2 separate regions of the Homo sapiens genome follow, and region 2 is linked to region 1. Evidence: fine-mapped expression QTL. A gene starts in region 1. The other region holds a variant in brackets. All regions are shown on one strand. Distances are between the middles of the regions.

Region 1 (8,000 bases):
TATATCTTGATGAAGGTGTGGGTTAAACAAATGTATGCTTTTTTTTTAAGAGTCAGGGCCTGGCTCTGTAGCCCAAACTGGAGTGCAGTCGCACCAGTGTGGTTCACTATAGCCTGGAACTCCTGGACTCAAGCAATTCTCCCGCTTCAGCCTCCTGAGCGGCTGTGACTACAGGCATGCCCCACCACCTGGATAATTTTTAAATTTTTTCTAGAGACTAGGGTCTTGCTCCACCATCCAGGCTGGAGTGCAGCGACACGACCATTGCAGCCTTGAACTCCTGGCCTCACGCAATCCTCCTGTGTTGGCTTCACAAAGTGCTGAGATTATAGACATGAGCCACGGCGCCCTGTGACACCATGCACAATCAAAATGTATGCAATTGTCAAAACTGATCAAACTGCACACTTAAGACTAACATATGTCACTGTATGTACATTATATCTCATTTTAAAAAGAAAAGAGGAATAGTGAGATAAAACATTAAGTATTGGTACATTTAAGAAAAAACTGTATATTGTGAAAAAATGTTTGGCTTTTATAATTGTAATTTTTTAAAAAAAGAATATTTACCATGATTACAGCTGCACTCGCTAAAGTTTTTAAGCAAAATCTATTCTATGTGCTCTGGGAGGTTAAAAGAAAAAAGTGTTTCTATACTTCACTGGCATGCTTTAAATTGTATTTTATTTTTAAATTAAATTAATTTATTATTTATTTTTTGAGACAGGGTCTCGCTCTGTTGCTCAGGCTGGAGTGCAGTGGTGCAATCTCTGCTCACTGCAAACTCTGCCTCCCTGGCTCAAGCTATCCTCCCACCTCAGCCTCCTGAGCAGCTGGTCCAATAGGCACATGCCACCACTCCCAGCTAATTTTTGTTCTTTTGCAAGAGACAAGGTCTCACCATGTTGCTCAGGCTGGTCTCAAACTCCTGGGCTGAAGTGATCCACCTACCTCAGCCTCCCAAAGTGTTGGGATTACAGGTGTGAGCCATTGCGCCCGGCCTAAATTGTATTTTCTTTCTTTATCCTTTTTGTGTATTTGTATTTTATTCTCTTCCCTTAACTTTGCCAGTGAACTCTGCAAACAGCTGCTCCCTGACACTCTCACAGTTATTAATGTGAATTTTTAGTCTTTGTGAATTTGAACAAATGACTATTTTTCTCTTAACTGGTTTCTGATTGATAAAAGCTCAGATTATCTTATCATCTAATACTTTCTGACCTAAACTCGGTACTTTTGTTGATGAAAGTCAATCCCTGTAAGTTAGTCACATTTTCCTCACACACCCCACCTTTTTTTTTTTTTTTTTTTTGGCAGAGGGCAAATATAGAGATGCCACAGTTCTCAGCTGGTGAAACACTGTACTGCTCACAATCTAGCTCTAACATTCTGGCTTGCTGAATAGATTGATAGGTAGGCAGACAGACAAATAACTAGCTCAACAATTCTGTTGCTTCTTGTATTTATTATGATAGCACAATTATTGATTGGGTTTTGATCAGTAGAATAAATAATTAGTACAAATTGGTTTCTAGTGTGACTTTCTTTGCCACCTCTTATTTATACCTGGCTTCGCTAGTATTTCTTTGCCTGTGTGGCATTTTCATCTATTCTCTTTGTTATGTTGATATTTAAGTCCCAGAAAAGAGTGGGTAGGAACCAGAGTAGCTCTCAAGGTGACAGGCAAATCTTCTAAGTGAAAAAAACCATTTTTCACTTTTATTAATTAAAGATTTGCATTGTTTTTGCTGCTTTCTTTTCACAGTTCAAACAGACAACAATATCAGTGTTACTATAGTTATTTATTTTTTTTGAGATGGAGTCTCGCTCTGTCACCAGGCTGGAGTGCAGTGGCGCAATCTTGGCTCACTGCAATCTCTGCCTCCTAGGTTTAAGTGATCCTCCTGCCTCAGCCTACCGAGTAGCTAGGATTACAGACGTGCACCACCATGCCCCGCTGATTTTTGTATTTTTAGTAGAGACGGGGTTTCGCCATGTTGGCCAGGCTGGTCTCAAACTTCTGACCTCAAGTGATCCGTCCGCCTCGGCCTCTCAAAGTGCTGGAATTATAGACTGTGAGCCACCATGCCTGGCCCAAATATGTGCATTTAAAGCTACAAATTTTCCTTTTACACAGTGTCACTGCATTCCACAAATTTGATATGTTGTATTATTATCTTTTATTTCAAATTATTTTATTTTTATTATTTTTTATTTTTGAGACAGAGTCTTGCTCTGTCGCCCAGGCTGGAGTGCAGTGGCTCCATCTCGGGCACTGCAACCTCCGCTTCCCGGATTCAAGAGATACTCGTGTCTGACCTCAGGTGATCCACCTGCCTTGGCCTCCCAAAGTGTTGGGATTACAAGTGTGAGCCTCCGTGCCCGGCCTCAACTTATTTTTAAATTTCCATTGATCTCTTCTTTGACCTAGAGATTTGGAATTATGTTGCTTAATTTCCAATATTTCCGGAATTTTCTGGCTTGTTTGGGTTGATTTCTAATTTTAATTCTATTGCGGTTAGAGATGATACTCTGATTTCAATCCTCTTAAATTTGAGGCTCACACTGAGGATTAAGTATAAAAAAATTTTTTTTGATACCTGTTTCATGGACTCGCCTCACAAACTTCTGTTTTAAGGTGGGGTAATTATAGTGCGTTCAGGGATGGATTTTTCTTCTGCTTTGGTTATGCATAGAGTGCACTGTGGCCCTTCAACACTATACTCTGAAATCCCACACAGTATTTTCCTCATCTGGAGGTCCTATAGGCTTACACTAGGGAGGAGGATCCAGTTCAGGCCAGCGTAGTCTTCAGCTGCGCCGTGGGACTTTCGGGGGAGCGCCTTTGCCCTCTCAGAACGGCTGGGCGGAACGGTGGGTTTGTGAGCCCTCCAGGCTCAGGGTGGGTCGCTCAGGGGCCATCTGGGGACTTTGGGAAGCAATGAAAGTTGTACCCTAGGATTTTTTTCTACTGGTCTTCTCTTCAGAGGCGAGAAAGCCAAGTTAAGAAAACCCAGACTCAGAAGGAGGTGGAGCGGGACTGCGTTCAGGCAAGGTGGCAGAACGCCTCGCCGTGGACGAAGAGAGCACATCTCTTCTTGCGAGGCCTAAGGAAGTAGGGCTCCCACTCGCCTCGGCAACCCAAGGACCCAGCCAAGGAGAGAGCCTCCAGATGAATCCTTCCTCTCCTCCTTCCTTCCCAGCCGCTCAAACTTTCACAAAGAGGAACTGGGTGCGGTAAAGAGGCCGGACACGGAACCGCTCGTCCGGTGACCGAAGAGACGGCGAGGAGGAGCCCGCGAACCCGCCTCTGTTCAGGCCCCGCCCACTCGACGTAATTTGCCCGCCCCTCTCCACCCTCCGAAGGGTGGAGCCTGAGGCCCCGCCTCCAAGCGGCCTCTCCCCGGAGTGCCTGGCGGCCAGCAGGGCGGGGCAGGAGGCTGGGAGAGGGACGGGTGCGGGGGTGGGGGAGAGGAAGGGAGCGGTCACGTGTGAGGGGCGGCCCGAGGTCACGTGACGGAGCGCCGGAGCGGAGGGAGCCGGGGCTGGGAGTTCTCCTGAGGGAAGAGGAGTGGAGTAGGGGGGACGCGGCGGCGGCGTTGACAATGGTGAGTGCGCGGCGGCCAGCGCGCTCGCCTCCCGCCCTCGTCCCGGAGCGCGCGGCGGGCCGGCCAACCGCGGGCCGGGCGTCGCCGGAGGAGGGGACGGGGGAGCAGGGCGGGGAGCGGGGTTAGGCCTGTCGGGCCACCCCTGGGTCTGGGAAAAGCTGGCGGCGCCACCTCTTCCCGGTCTCGGCGAGGCCCGAGCACCTACGGGCGGCGGCGTGCTCTCCTGGCCATGTCGGAGCCTCTGCCCGCGTTCTTCGACTGCTTGTTGGGGCTCTGGCTGGGGACTCGGACCCCGCCTCTGCGGGGGCTGGTCGCCGCCTCCCCTTCCTAGGTAGCCAGTCCCTGTTCTCCTCCCGGGCAGCCTCTCTTCCATCCAGGTGGGGCGACCCGGGAGCCCCCCACCTCCGGACTCTTCGGGGGACTTGGGCACTCAGTGTGTCACGAACTTGATAAACTCTGATATTTTAAAACCTGACTATGGTGACATTCTTTGATTTCATGACCCCAGTTCAGGCTTTCTGTTGACACTTGTAAAATGGGAGAGAAAAATAAAAGGACGTTGGAATGGGGGATATCTTTAACTCCAGAGACACCCGTTTGGTGCCCGCCGTTTTAAGCATTGGCTCTCATTTCCGTCCGCAAGCTATTTCGCTGAACTTAACGCTCTGGGTTGTTGAAACGGCCTATGAGGCAGAGGAGGGAGGGGAATCAGTGCTCTCACCACAGTCCGCGGAAGCACTAGCCTGGGCATTGTGGTATTTAGCTGGGTGTCGGCAGTCTCTAGGTTAGATCTCATTTTACCCATTTTCTGGTAGTAGTCGTCAGTTCTCTTCATTTAGCGCCTACTGTATGCTCTCCTAATACTACCTGCTCTTCCCAAAGCTCACTGATTCAATAGACTGCTTGAGACTTTTGGCTTAAAAGGCCGAGCCAGGTATATTTTTAAAAAGCTACTTTGAATAAATAACTTTTAATTTCAGTAATGATGTTGCTTTCAAAACAAAACAAAACAAAATCCAGACATTCATGTTCATTCTTAGAGCTTTTTTTCTTTCATTCAACAAATAATTGCTCAGGTGTGCCTAGGGGACCCCAGTAAAATGGAAACAGCGCCTACCTGCTCTCGTAGCTTACAATGTAGGGAGAGATAAACATTTATTTGTGTAAATTATTTGTTTAACGTGGAAATTAGAATTGTGACAGATACTAAGAAGGAAGTATTGGGGGACCTTGCCTAGTCAGTGTTAGGGCAGGCTTCTTTAATTGAATATCATTTGAAAAGAAAACTTAAAAGGTCCTCCTATTTTTTGCTTACATTTGTAATTATTACTTTTAATACGCTTTTTTGAATTATGTTCAAGAGCAGTTTATATTTTCAAGTTACCCAAACAGAAACTAAATTGTAAAACTTTAAAACACTGAAATGGTCACAGATGTAATATATGTATGAAAATTTGCTGTTTCATTGCTTGTGTATGGGCTAAGTGAATGAATTTTGAGAGTCAGCCTTCCACCTCAGAAATGCAATGAGTTGCATTTCTTTACATCCACTGGACTTAGTGAAATTCCTTCAGTGGGGACTAAAAAGTTGCCTTTTTATGTATCTACCATGTATTTTTGCTAATTGGTAATGCTCAATATTGGGTTCAGAAATTATATGAAAAATCCTAAATTAACCTAAAGTCAGTGATAGGAGGTTTAGGCCAAGATTAGAAAACTATAAAAACAATTGCTAGCATGTTTTTATAGTCATATATATTGCAGTCCAGTTATTTAAAAGCTCAAGAGTTTTAACTTGCATATTAATAGTTAATCCTGAAAATCGCAATATTCCAAATGCGCCCTTGAAGATATCTTTACCAAAAGAAGTGAGTAGTATTTTTGCACTTAAAAGATCTCACGGGGTGCGGTGGCTCACACCTGTAATCCCAACAATTTGGGAGGCCGAGGTGGGCGGATCACCTTGAAGTCGGGAGTTTGAGACCAGCCTGGCCAACATGGCGAAACCCCGTCTTCACTAAAAATACAAAAACAAAAAAAAATTGGCCAAGTGTGGTGGCGCATTGCTGTAGTCCCACCTACTCGGGAGGCGGAAGTTGCCTGACCAACATGGTGAAACTCCGTCTCAACTAAAAATAAAAAAATTAGGTGTGGCGCACACCTGTAATCCCAGCTACTCAGGAGGCTGAGGCAGGAGAATCAATTGAACCCGGGAGGCAGAGGTTGCAGTGAGCCGAGATCGCGCTGCTGTACTCCAGCCTGGCGACAGAGTGAGACTCCGTCTCAAAAAAAAAAAAAAAAAAAAAAATCTCAAAACTGAATTGCTGTCTGCATCATATCCTAACCCTCAACAAATTTTATTCTCTTTCCTTCTAGTCTTTACCAGCTTGACAGTTGTGTATTTTACTTCCTCTTTAACATATCAGAAGTATTAGAATTTTATTTAGAATAATTAGAAAAAGAATTTAATTTCATTACCCTTTATTTCAAATGACAGAAGTTGCACATCTTAGAAAAAACTTTGAAAGAGAGACTTTGGGTAGAGATCTTTCTCTTTCAGTTCTTTCTAAAAGACAAGCTTTTTTCCTCAGTTATTTTTTTCTTTTTGTTCTCTACCTGTAAAATGTAAGATATCCACAATTTTCTGGAGGTGTTTTTTAGTAAGACTAGTTCTTTTATTATTATTATTATTTTTTGAGACGGAGTCTCGCTCTGTCGCCCAGGCTGGAGTGCAGTGGCGCGATCTTGGCTCACTGCAACTTCCGCCTCCTGAGTAGCTGGGACTACAGGAATGCGCCACCACACCCGGCCAATTTTTTTTTTTTTTTTTTTTTTTTGTATTTTTAGTGGAGACGGGGTTTCGCCATGTTGGCCAGACTGGTCTCAAACTCCTGACCTCAAGTGATCCGCCCGCCTTGTCCTCCCAAAGTGTTGGGATTACAGGTGTGAGCCACTGTGCCTGGCTGACTAGTTCATTTTCGATATGCCCTAATGTAAAAAAACTGAATGTTGGTCGGGCGTGGTGCACTTTGGGAGGCCGAGGCGGGCGGATCACGAGGTCAGGAGATCAAGAGCATCCTGGCTAACACGGTGAAACCCCGTCTCCACTAAAAATACGAAAAATTAGCCAGGCGCGGTGGCGGGCACCTGTAGTCCCAGCTACTCGGGAGGCTGAGGCAGGAGAATGGCATGAACCCGGGAGGCGGAGCTTGCAGTGAGCCGAGCTAGCGCCACTGCACTCCGGCCTGGGCGAAAGAGCGAGACTCCATCTCAAAAAAAAAAAAAACCTGAATGTTAACCCAATGCCATATTGTCATGGAATAACTGGTTAAAGTGCAGTAATTTATTACTCAACCTATTACTTTTTTGCATATGCTATACTAGGCTTTTTAAAAATGCCATTTGATTGCTTCCAATTTTAGTGTTTTGATTGTATTTAAAAATATCTTTTTTTTTTTTTTTTTTTTTTTTGAGACAAGCTCTTGCTCTGCCGCCCAGTCAGTGGCTTACTGCAGCCTCGACCTCCTGGGTTCAGCCTCCCAAGTAGCTGGGACTGCAGGCACACACCACTATGCTGGGCTAATTTTTTAAATTTTTGTAGATATGGGGGTCTAGCTGTATTGACGAAGCTGGTCTTGAACTTCTGGGCTCAAGTGATCCTCCTGCTTCAGCTTCCCAAAGTGCTAGGATTACAGGTGTGAGCCACTGTGTTCTGCTACTTTTTTTAAAATTATGAAATATTTCTTGCATCCAGAAAATAATAGAGGATAGCACGTAGTTTTTCACATATTTTTAATGGTTAGGAATTTAAATATTTAAGGAATGGTGTCAAAACACTGTTTATCATTATGGTGTTAATTGTGAAATTTTATAAAATGAACTTGGTTTATACCATTTTAATTGGTGGCAATTTTAGTTCTATCAAAATTTTATTTAACTTTGGGATTTGATTTTTTTTTTTTTTTTTTTGAGGCAGAATCTCACTCTGTCGCCCAGGCTGGAGTGCAGTGGCAAGATCTCGGCTCACTGCAACTTCTGCCTCCTGGGTTCAAGCGATTCTGCTGCCTCAGCCTCCCGCATAGCTGGGACTACAAGTGCATGCCACCACGTCTGGCAAATTTGTTCTGTTTTTGTAGAGATGGGGTTTCACCGTGTTAGTCAGGATGGTCTCGATCTCCTGACCTTGTGATCCTCCTGCTTCGGCCTCCCAAACTGCTGGGATTACACGCGTGAGCCACCGCGCCTGGCGATTTGATCTTTTAATGTCAGCTTTCAAATCCCAAGTGGAACTCTGTGTGTTTAGGTATATGCATGTGGAAAAAAGTTATAATATTTCCTTTTCTCTGTAAAACAATTTTTATAGTTTTCAAATCTCATTTTTCTTTTAAG
Region 2 (8,000 bases), 54 kb after region 1:
TTATGAAAATAGATGGAAGATAAAATTTTGTTACAATGTCTGTTCACGTGTGGTACCCATTTATTGTCTCAGGATAAAAGTCAGTCTTTCCTGGTTGCTCCCGGGAAGGGGATTTTTTAGCTCTTTTGAGAGCCCAGGCTTTTAGACAGCTAAGGGATTTCAAAAACAAGTGATTATAAAATTAAAGATGCTCTCATTTAGAAAAAAAATACAGGTCTAAAATATAACACAGTTATGGATTAGAACTGTTATGCAGCTCAGTATTAGAATAAAGCAAAGGTTTTCCAGGAGTGGTATTATGCCCCGGAAAGAAAGCAAGACAGAGCAGGACCACATGGGTACCATCTGTACAAGTTCTACAAATGTGTCTGACAGGTGCCCCATCCCTTCCAGCTCTAACATTTCATGACTCTAACACTAAATCTTTTTTTTTTTTTTTTTTTTAATTTTGAGATGGAGTCTTGCTCTGTCGCCCAGGCTGGAATGCAGTGGTGCAATCTCGGCTTACTGCAACCTCTGCCTCCTGGGTTCAAAGGATTCTCCTACCTCAGCCTCCCGAGTAGGTGGGACTACAGGCACGTGCCACCATGCCTGGCTAATTTTTTGTATTTTTGGTAGAGATGGGGTTTCACTTTATTAGCCAGGATGGTCTCGATCACCTGACCTCACTGAGAGGTGAAGCCAGCTGGACTTCTGGGTCGGGTGGGGACTTGGAGAACTTTTCTGTCTTACAAGAGGATTGTAAAATGCACCAATCAGCACTCTGTAGCTAGGATTGTAAAACGCACCAATTGGCACTCTAGCTAGCTAGAGGTTTGTAAAATGCACCAATCAGCTCTCTGTGGCTAGCTAGAGATTTGTAAAATGGACCAATCAGTGCTCTGTAAAATGGACCAATCAGCACTCTGTAAAATGGGCCAATCAGCAGGACATGGGTGGGGGACAAATAAGGGAATAACAGCTGGCTGCCACCCCCCAACCCCAGCCCCCAGCCAGCAGCAGCAACCCGCTTGGGTCCCCTTCCATGCTGTGGAAGCTTTGTTCTTTCGCTCTTCACGATAATAAATCTTGCTGCTGCTCACTCTTTGGGTCCATGCCACCTTTGAGAGCTGTAACACTCACTGCAAAGGTCCACAGCTTCATTCTTGAAATCAGCAAGACCACGAACCCACTGGAAGGAACAAACTCTGGACACATCGTGGTCCACCTGTCTTGGCCTCCCAAAGTGCTGGGATTACAGGCGTGAGCCACCGTGCCCGGCCAAGAGTAAATCTTAAAAGTTCACTTAGGATAAGCAACAGTTTAGCGTCTAGATCATGATAACCTTAATGTCAGAAAAATACTAGAAACTTCAACTTACAAAATTTGGTAGACAAGGTATGAGAGAGTAATCTACAGGATGTGCTTTTGTGAAACCTACACCAGATTTTGTTAATAGCAAAAGCAGGCCGGGCGCGGTGGCTCACGCCTGTAATCCCAGCACTTTGGGAGGCCGAGGCGGGTGGATCATGAGGTCAGGAGATCGAGACCATCCTGGCTAACACGGTGAAACCCCGTCTCTACTAAAAATACAAAAAAAATTAGCCGGACGTGGTGGCGGGCGCCTGTAGTCCCAGCTACTCGGGAGGCTGAGGCAGGAGAATGGCATGAACCCAGGGGGCAGAGCTTGCAGTGAGCCGAGATTGCGCCACTGCACTCCCGCCTGGTGACAGAGCAAGACTCCGTCTCAAAAAAAAAAACAAAAAACAAAAAACAAAAAACAGCAAAAGCAAAGGCGAAGAAGAAATTAACTTGTATTATTTCTGCCACCTAGGTTATCTTCTCCCACTTCCTTTCCCCTTCTATTTATTTCCGTATTCATGCATGGATTTAGCATATTTACAGACTATCAGTTAGTGCTTGCTATGGTTTGAATGTGTCCCCTAAATTTTTTGTGTTGGAACTTAATCATCAAATTCATATATTGATTGGAGGTGAGGCCTTTGGGAAGTAATTAGGATTAGATAAAAGTTCTCAGTGTGGGTCCCCCATGATGTGACTGGTGGCTTCGTAAGAAAAGAGAAACCTGAGTTGACACACAGGTCTTGCTCTCTGGCCATGTGATGCCTTCTACCAGGTTATGTCAAGAGGGCCATCACCAGATGCCAGCCTCTTGATCTTGGACTTCCTAGCCTCCAGAACTAAAAGAAATAAATTCATTTTCTTTACAAATTACTCAGTCTGTGGTGTTCTGTTATAGCAATGCAAAATGGAGTAAGTGTTATCTTGGCCCTATCCTGAAGGAACTTTAATCCAGAGCAGTGGTTCTCAAAAGTGTGGTCTCAGACCAGCAGAGTTGCATCATCTGAAATGTTTTAGAAATGTAAACTCTCAGATCCCACTCCAGATCTACTGAATCAGAAACTTCAGGGATGGGGCCCAACAATCTTGTTGCACTCTAACGTTTAAGAACCACTGACCCAGAGACACAATTACGATAGTTTTCATTCTATGATAGAGCCTCTACTGGGACCTGTGATATGTAAGAGAAGCACCCAGTGTGTTCAGAGGTGCAGAGGTAAGAAACGATGATATAACTGGTGTATAGTTCCAGCATGAATAGAATGGTAGATGTGGGGAGTAGAAATAAAGCTGGAAGAGGCATATAGGGCCAACCAATTTAGGACAGAACCTGGATGCCATACGATGGAATATGGGCTTTATCTGAACATTTATTCAGAATCACCAAAGGACTCTAAGCAGGAGTAACTTACCAGATTTGTGTTTTCAAAAGATCATTATGGTGCTACGGCAAAGTATAGGAGGATACCAGTTACATAGTTACTGCATTAATCCATTCAACAAGCAAAATAAAACATTTATAGAGGCTCTAATATGTGTTAGGTGCTGATTACACTTACTGCTATAAATATGACATAACCAGTATAGATATGACATCTTTTTTTGTAAAAGCAAAAATTTTATATTGAATTTTCCCATTTCAATGTTTATAGTAGAACTTAATGAATGGCTGAAAGGGAAAGCCTGTATGTGCTATCATAAAATTCAGATTGCATTTTCTACCTGCAAGGAGGTGCAAACAAAATTACAGTTAAAATAGTTTTGAGGATTTTTTTTTTCTGTAAAACTATACTAGGGTTGGGCTAGATCTGTAAGACTAGTAACTGCCAGGTGCTGTGGCATGCACCTGTAGTTCCAGTTACTCAGGAGGCTGACACAGGATTGCTTGAGCCCAGGAGTTCACGATCACCCTTCCAAAGAAAAAAAAAGACTCGTACAAATGTTGATTCTGGCCTAATATGCTGCTCCTGTCCAAAAAGCCCACCTATTTGCTTTGAAATCAGAAAGACTGGCTGGGCACGGTGGCTCACACCTGTAATCCCAGCACTTTGGGAGGCCGAGGCAGCTGGATCACTTGAGGCCAGGAGTTCTGAGACCAGCCTGGCCAACATGGTGAAACTAAAGAGAATACAAAAATTAGCCAGGTATTGTGGTGCAAGCCTGTAGTCCCAGCTACTCGGGAGGCTGAGGCATGAGAATTGCTTGAGCCTGGGAGGTGGACGTTGCAGTGAGTTATGATTGCACCACTGCACTTCAGCCTGGGCAACAGAGTGAGACTGTCTCAAAAAAAAGAAAAAAAAAAGATTTAGATTTGTATCTGACTCTACCACTTACTGGGGCAAGTTAGTTAACCTGGTGACAATAATACCTCTAAATTGTTGTCAAGCATATTAAAAGATTAAAAGGAACAACATAGTGCTTGCCTCAGTTACGTATTAAACGTTTGGTTTATCCTTCATTCTCCTAGTTTCCAAATCTGACGAGACATCATTGTTTATTAACATTTTCTAGCATATTTAGTCACTCACTACATTATCTAAGGAGTCTTGTAAAACCTCTCATTCCACATACATGGTCTCCATCATAACTCAGACACAGGAATCTACCACCTTCAGCTAGAACTGTTGATAAAGTTGTAATTTTCCTCCCTGCATATTTGTGTTTATCCTAGTCTATCCTAGGTACTTCCTAATGAATGATTTCTCTTCTCAAAAATATAATCACTATTTGTAAGCCATAGAATTAGGTCTGCGTTAACTCTGTTACTTAAATTTTTTTCAGTATGTCTTTTCCTTAGTTAAGCCTCTGCTTACATCGTTTCCACTGACTAGAATTTACTTACCGCTTCTCTATGTTTTACTTTTAAGTCTGGCAGAAATCTCCTTACCACTCTCAAATTGCTCCTTTCTTTGAACTGCCATTAGTCTATTAGAGTAATAAGTGCATTATTTAACGTGTACTGTTCTTACCACCAAAACCAGATCAGAACCTTTGAAAGCAAAGGACTGTCTCCTTGTATCCCTGATGTTTAAAAATTATTTTGTGAATCAAAGGCACGTGGCAAATTGTTACTGGAATCCTATTAGACATACAGTATTGTATATTACATAACACGTTCCTTCAAGTTGTAAGATCTTAATGATGTAAGTATAAAGAGATGTGGATGGAGATGCTAAACTTGTGAATTTTTTTTTTTTTTAGACGGAGTCTCACTCTGTTGCCCAGGCTGGAGAGCAGTGGCCCGATCTCGGCTCACTGCAACCT[C/T]TGGCACCCAGGTTCAAACGATTCTCCTGCCTCCGCCTCCCTAGTAATTGGGATTACAGGTGTGCACCACCACGCCCGGCTGATTCTTGTATTTTTAGTAGAGAGGGGATTTCACCATGTTTGCCAGGCTGGTCTCGAACTCCTGACCTCAGATGATCCACCGGCCTCGCCCTCCCTAAGTGCTGCGATTACAGGCGTGAACCACCACGCCCGGGTTAAACTTGTGAATTTAACATGTTGCAGCCTCACATGAGAACACGGTATTCAACAAATGCAATGGAACGAAACTATGGCTGGGGTACAGAGCACGTATTTTTGCCATGTGGTCACAACTATGTGGTCATAGCTGCTAGGATGATGTACGCAAACTGCTCACATTAAAGCAAAAGTACTTACGTAATACAAGGGGTTTAATAGTGCAACAATATTTCTTAGCAACATTTCTGAGGGGCATATCAAGTTATTATCGCTAACGTTATCATATCAGGAAATGACGGTTAACAATGCAAGAAACTTTTGGGAAATGCTATTTAGTGTTTGAGTCCGCAAGACATACTCGTACCCTGAGCATTCGCAGTTGCTGCTCCACCACCCATTCTCTCACTGCTCACCCACGTGCTTCTGGACACTTGCTTACCAAAGTACTAGTTTGCATCACGTGACACGACTAGCAGGCCCCCTCCGCTCATGTATGACATCCCAAAGATGCCTGATTATTTTCCCTTCTTTAGGGAAAGGTGGTCCCAATCACCAACAAAACAGAGAAAGAGAACGAGAATTATCTCTAGTGGTTTTGCCTGCTAATCTTCTTTTTCCCTGAAAGAACACCCTCACGGCACGGCGTTTTCCTTAACGGTCAGGCGTTTTCCCGGGCAGCTTACCTGCTCGGCCTGGGTCTTTCTGGACAGCAGGCGCTGGAGGTGCGCGTCACTGTCCGCCGCCGTGTCCGCGGCTGCGCCAGACAGTGTAGAACCTGCGGCCTCGATGTCCTTCTCCCGTGCCCTATTGTGGGCTCGGCTCCCGGCGGGGCGCCAGGCTGGCCACCGGGCAGCCATCTGCTCTGCCCTTCGTCCCCACTTTGGGCCCTTTCCCGGGGTTCTGGGGCAAGTTTCTGTCCTTGCCACCGCCTCCTCCTCTGCCTCCGGTGGCTCCAAAATACCAAACACGTCCTTGTTCGTGCCCCTGACTGTGAAACCTCAGGGCCCCAGCGCCGACGGCGACGTCGGGGCCGAGCTAACCCGGCCTCTGGACAAGAGTGAGTGCGGGAACTACTGAGGGCGGCAGAGGGTGGTGTCTGCTGGGCCGAGGCTGGTTGGGAGGAAGCTACATCCCCTTCCCCTGGGGATCCGAGGTCCCATCGAGTGTTGTCATCGTGCCTCTCAGTGTCTGCCTCCTTCGCTGGTGTGTGAGCCCCTCAAACGGCTTAGGACTGTATCTGATTAATTCTTAACGCCTCGTCCCAGAAGCGGCCTTTTCCCTTTTACTGCCCTGCTCTCTGAATGGTTTAGACACTCATGTGTTGGGAAGATTTGACTTTTTTGAGTTGTTAGGTGGACGCCCGCTCTTTCTTGCATTCTTTGTTTCTCTCCCACCCCCGAATGGGATGTGGCAGTGAAAAGCCAGCGGAGACTCCTTTTAGGATTCTTTATCATTGAGGAGGCGCCGACTCATACCACGCTGTTAGGCTGTGTGGTGGTTGCCAAGAGGAACCAGACTCAGATCCAGATCCCCTCTTAAGAAACGTAACGGTATCGTGGGGGAGGACACGTGTATGGAAAGTGAACTGTAATACAAGGTAGAACATGACAAGGTCTAGAACAAGGTAGGGTGTCCCCGGCTCCAGAGAGAAAAGAAGAGGTAGCATCAGTTAGTGGCAGCGGGCTTTGCTCAGCAAAACTTAAGTTTGGATGGATTCGTTGACAGAGAGGCATGTGAATGTTTTCAAGGTGAGTTTCGGGATGATTAGGGAGGTAAGGGAGTTTCCTCTGACCATATGAAACTGGGAGATTGAGGAAATGCTATCCAGAATTGTCTCCAGGAATAGGAGGAGAAATGTCTCACTTCAACAAGCGACATTGGTGCCTCCTATTGTAAATCTAAAATATAGACTACAATATGTTTTTCAGAGCAGAAGTACAGTACTTTCACTAAACATGTGATGGAACTCACAGTATATGTTATTCTTTGACATATTCTTCCAGTGTTAAGCAAGGCCTTTCACTTTACTTGGTGCTGGGAGACTGTCTTTATTTTCTGCTGTTATAACATAATACCTGAGACTGAGTAATTTATAAACAATAGAGGTGTATTTGACTCATGGTTCTGAGCCGGGATCTGATGAGGGCCTTTGGCTGCATCATCACATGGTGGAAGGTGGAAAGGCAAATGAGCCTGTGAGACAGAGAAAGGGGGCTGAACTTATCCTTTTTTCCTGTGATAACTGACTCCTGTGATAATGGCATTAATCCACTCACAAAGGCAAACTCCTCATGTCCTAATCACCTCTTAAAGGTTCCACCTCTCAACTGTTAAAATAGCAATTAAATTTCAATATGAGTCTTGGAGAAGACATTCAAACCATAGCAGAGAATGTGTTATTTTAATAATGTAATTATACTATTATTTATTTTTAAATTATAAAAATACATAAAATTTACTCTTTTAAGCTTTTTTTTAGTTTTTTTTTCTTTACTTTTTTTTTTTTAGAGACAGGGTCTTGCTCTGTTACCCAAGCTGGAGTATAGTGGTATGATCATAGCTCACTGTAACCTCCAACTCCCAGACTCAAGCAATCCTCCTGGCTCAGCCTTCTAAGTAGCTAGGAATACAGGCGTGCATCACCATGCCTGGATAATTTTTTAATTTTTTGTAGAGATGGGGTCTTGCTATGTTGCCCAGGCTGGTCTCAAACTTCTGGGCTCCAGGGATCCTCCTGCCATGGCCTCCCAAAGCCCTGAGATTACAGACCTGAGCCACTGCACCCAGCCAGTCTTAATTGTTTTTAAGCACATAGTTCACTAGCGTTAAGTATATTGACATTGTCGCGAAATAGATGAGAACTTTTTCATCTTGCAGAGTTGAAACTCAAACAATAGTTTACCCATTAAAGAACAATTTTCCATTATTTTATATTATTTGAAGGCATAAGGTAATTTGGATGAGATAATTTGCCTTATTGTATTCAAATATTGATAAATTCTTATTTTCTGCAGCTATTCCAATTCACCTGAAAATGTAAATGTCTTTGCTGCTTCCTGTAAGAAGATAGAATAAAGACATGGGTTTGTCAGCACTAGATTTTCTTCTGGTGGAGAATCCTTAGATACTTCATTGGGTCTGTGTGCCAGGTGATTTTTCATCTCCTTTGACTGGGATTGGTCCAGATGTTGAATTTA

What was found. PIP is the estimated chance that this variant, and not a neighbour inherited with it, causes the effect.
Region 2: its variant is fine-mapped to the expression of VPS26A in whole blood (INTERVAL, PIP 0.92).

The regions. Positions count from the first base shown.
Region 1 is chr10:69,120,670-69,128,669 of GRCh38, forward strand. It overlaps VPS26A (VPS26 retromer complex component A), which reads left to right and starts at 3,509. Exons shown (of 9, transcript NM_004896.5): 1 at 3,509-3,611. The coding sequence starts at 3,609. RefSeq lists enhancers at 2,743-3,102, 3,967-4,473 and a silencer at 3,363-3,762.
Region 2 is chr10:69,174,703-69,182,702 of GRCh38, forward strand. It overlaps SUPV3L1 (Suv3 like RNA helicase), which reads left to right and starts at 5,532. Exons shown (of 15, transcript NM_003171.5): 1 at 5,532-5,860. The coding sequence starts at 5,590. RefSeq lists an enhancer at 5,247-5,616. The variant C/T (reference allele first, on the strand shown) is at 4,606.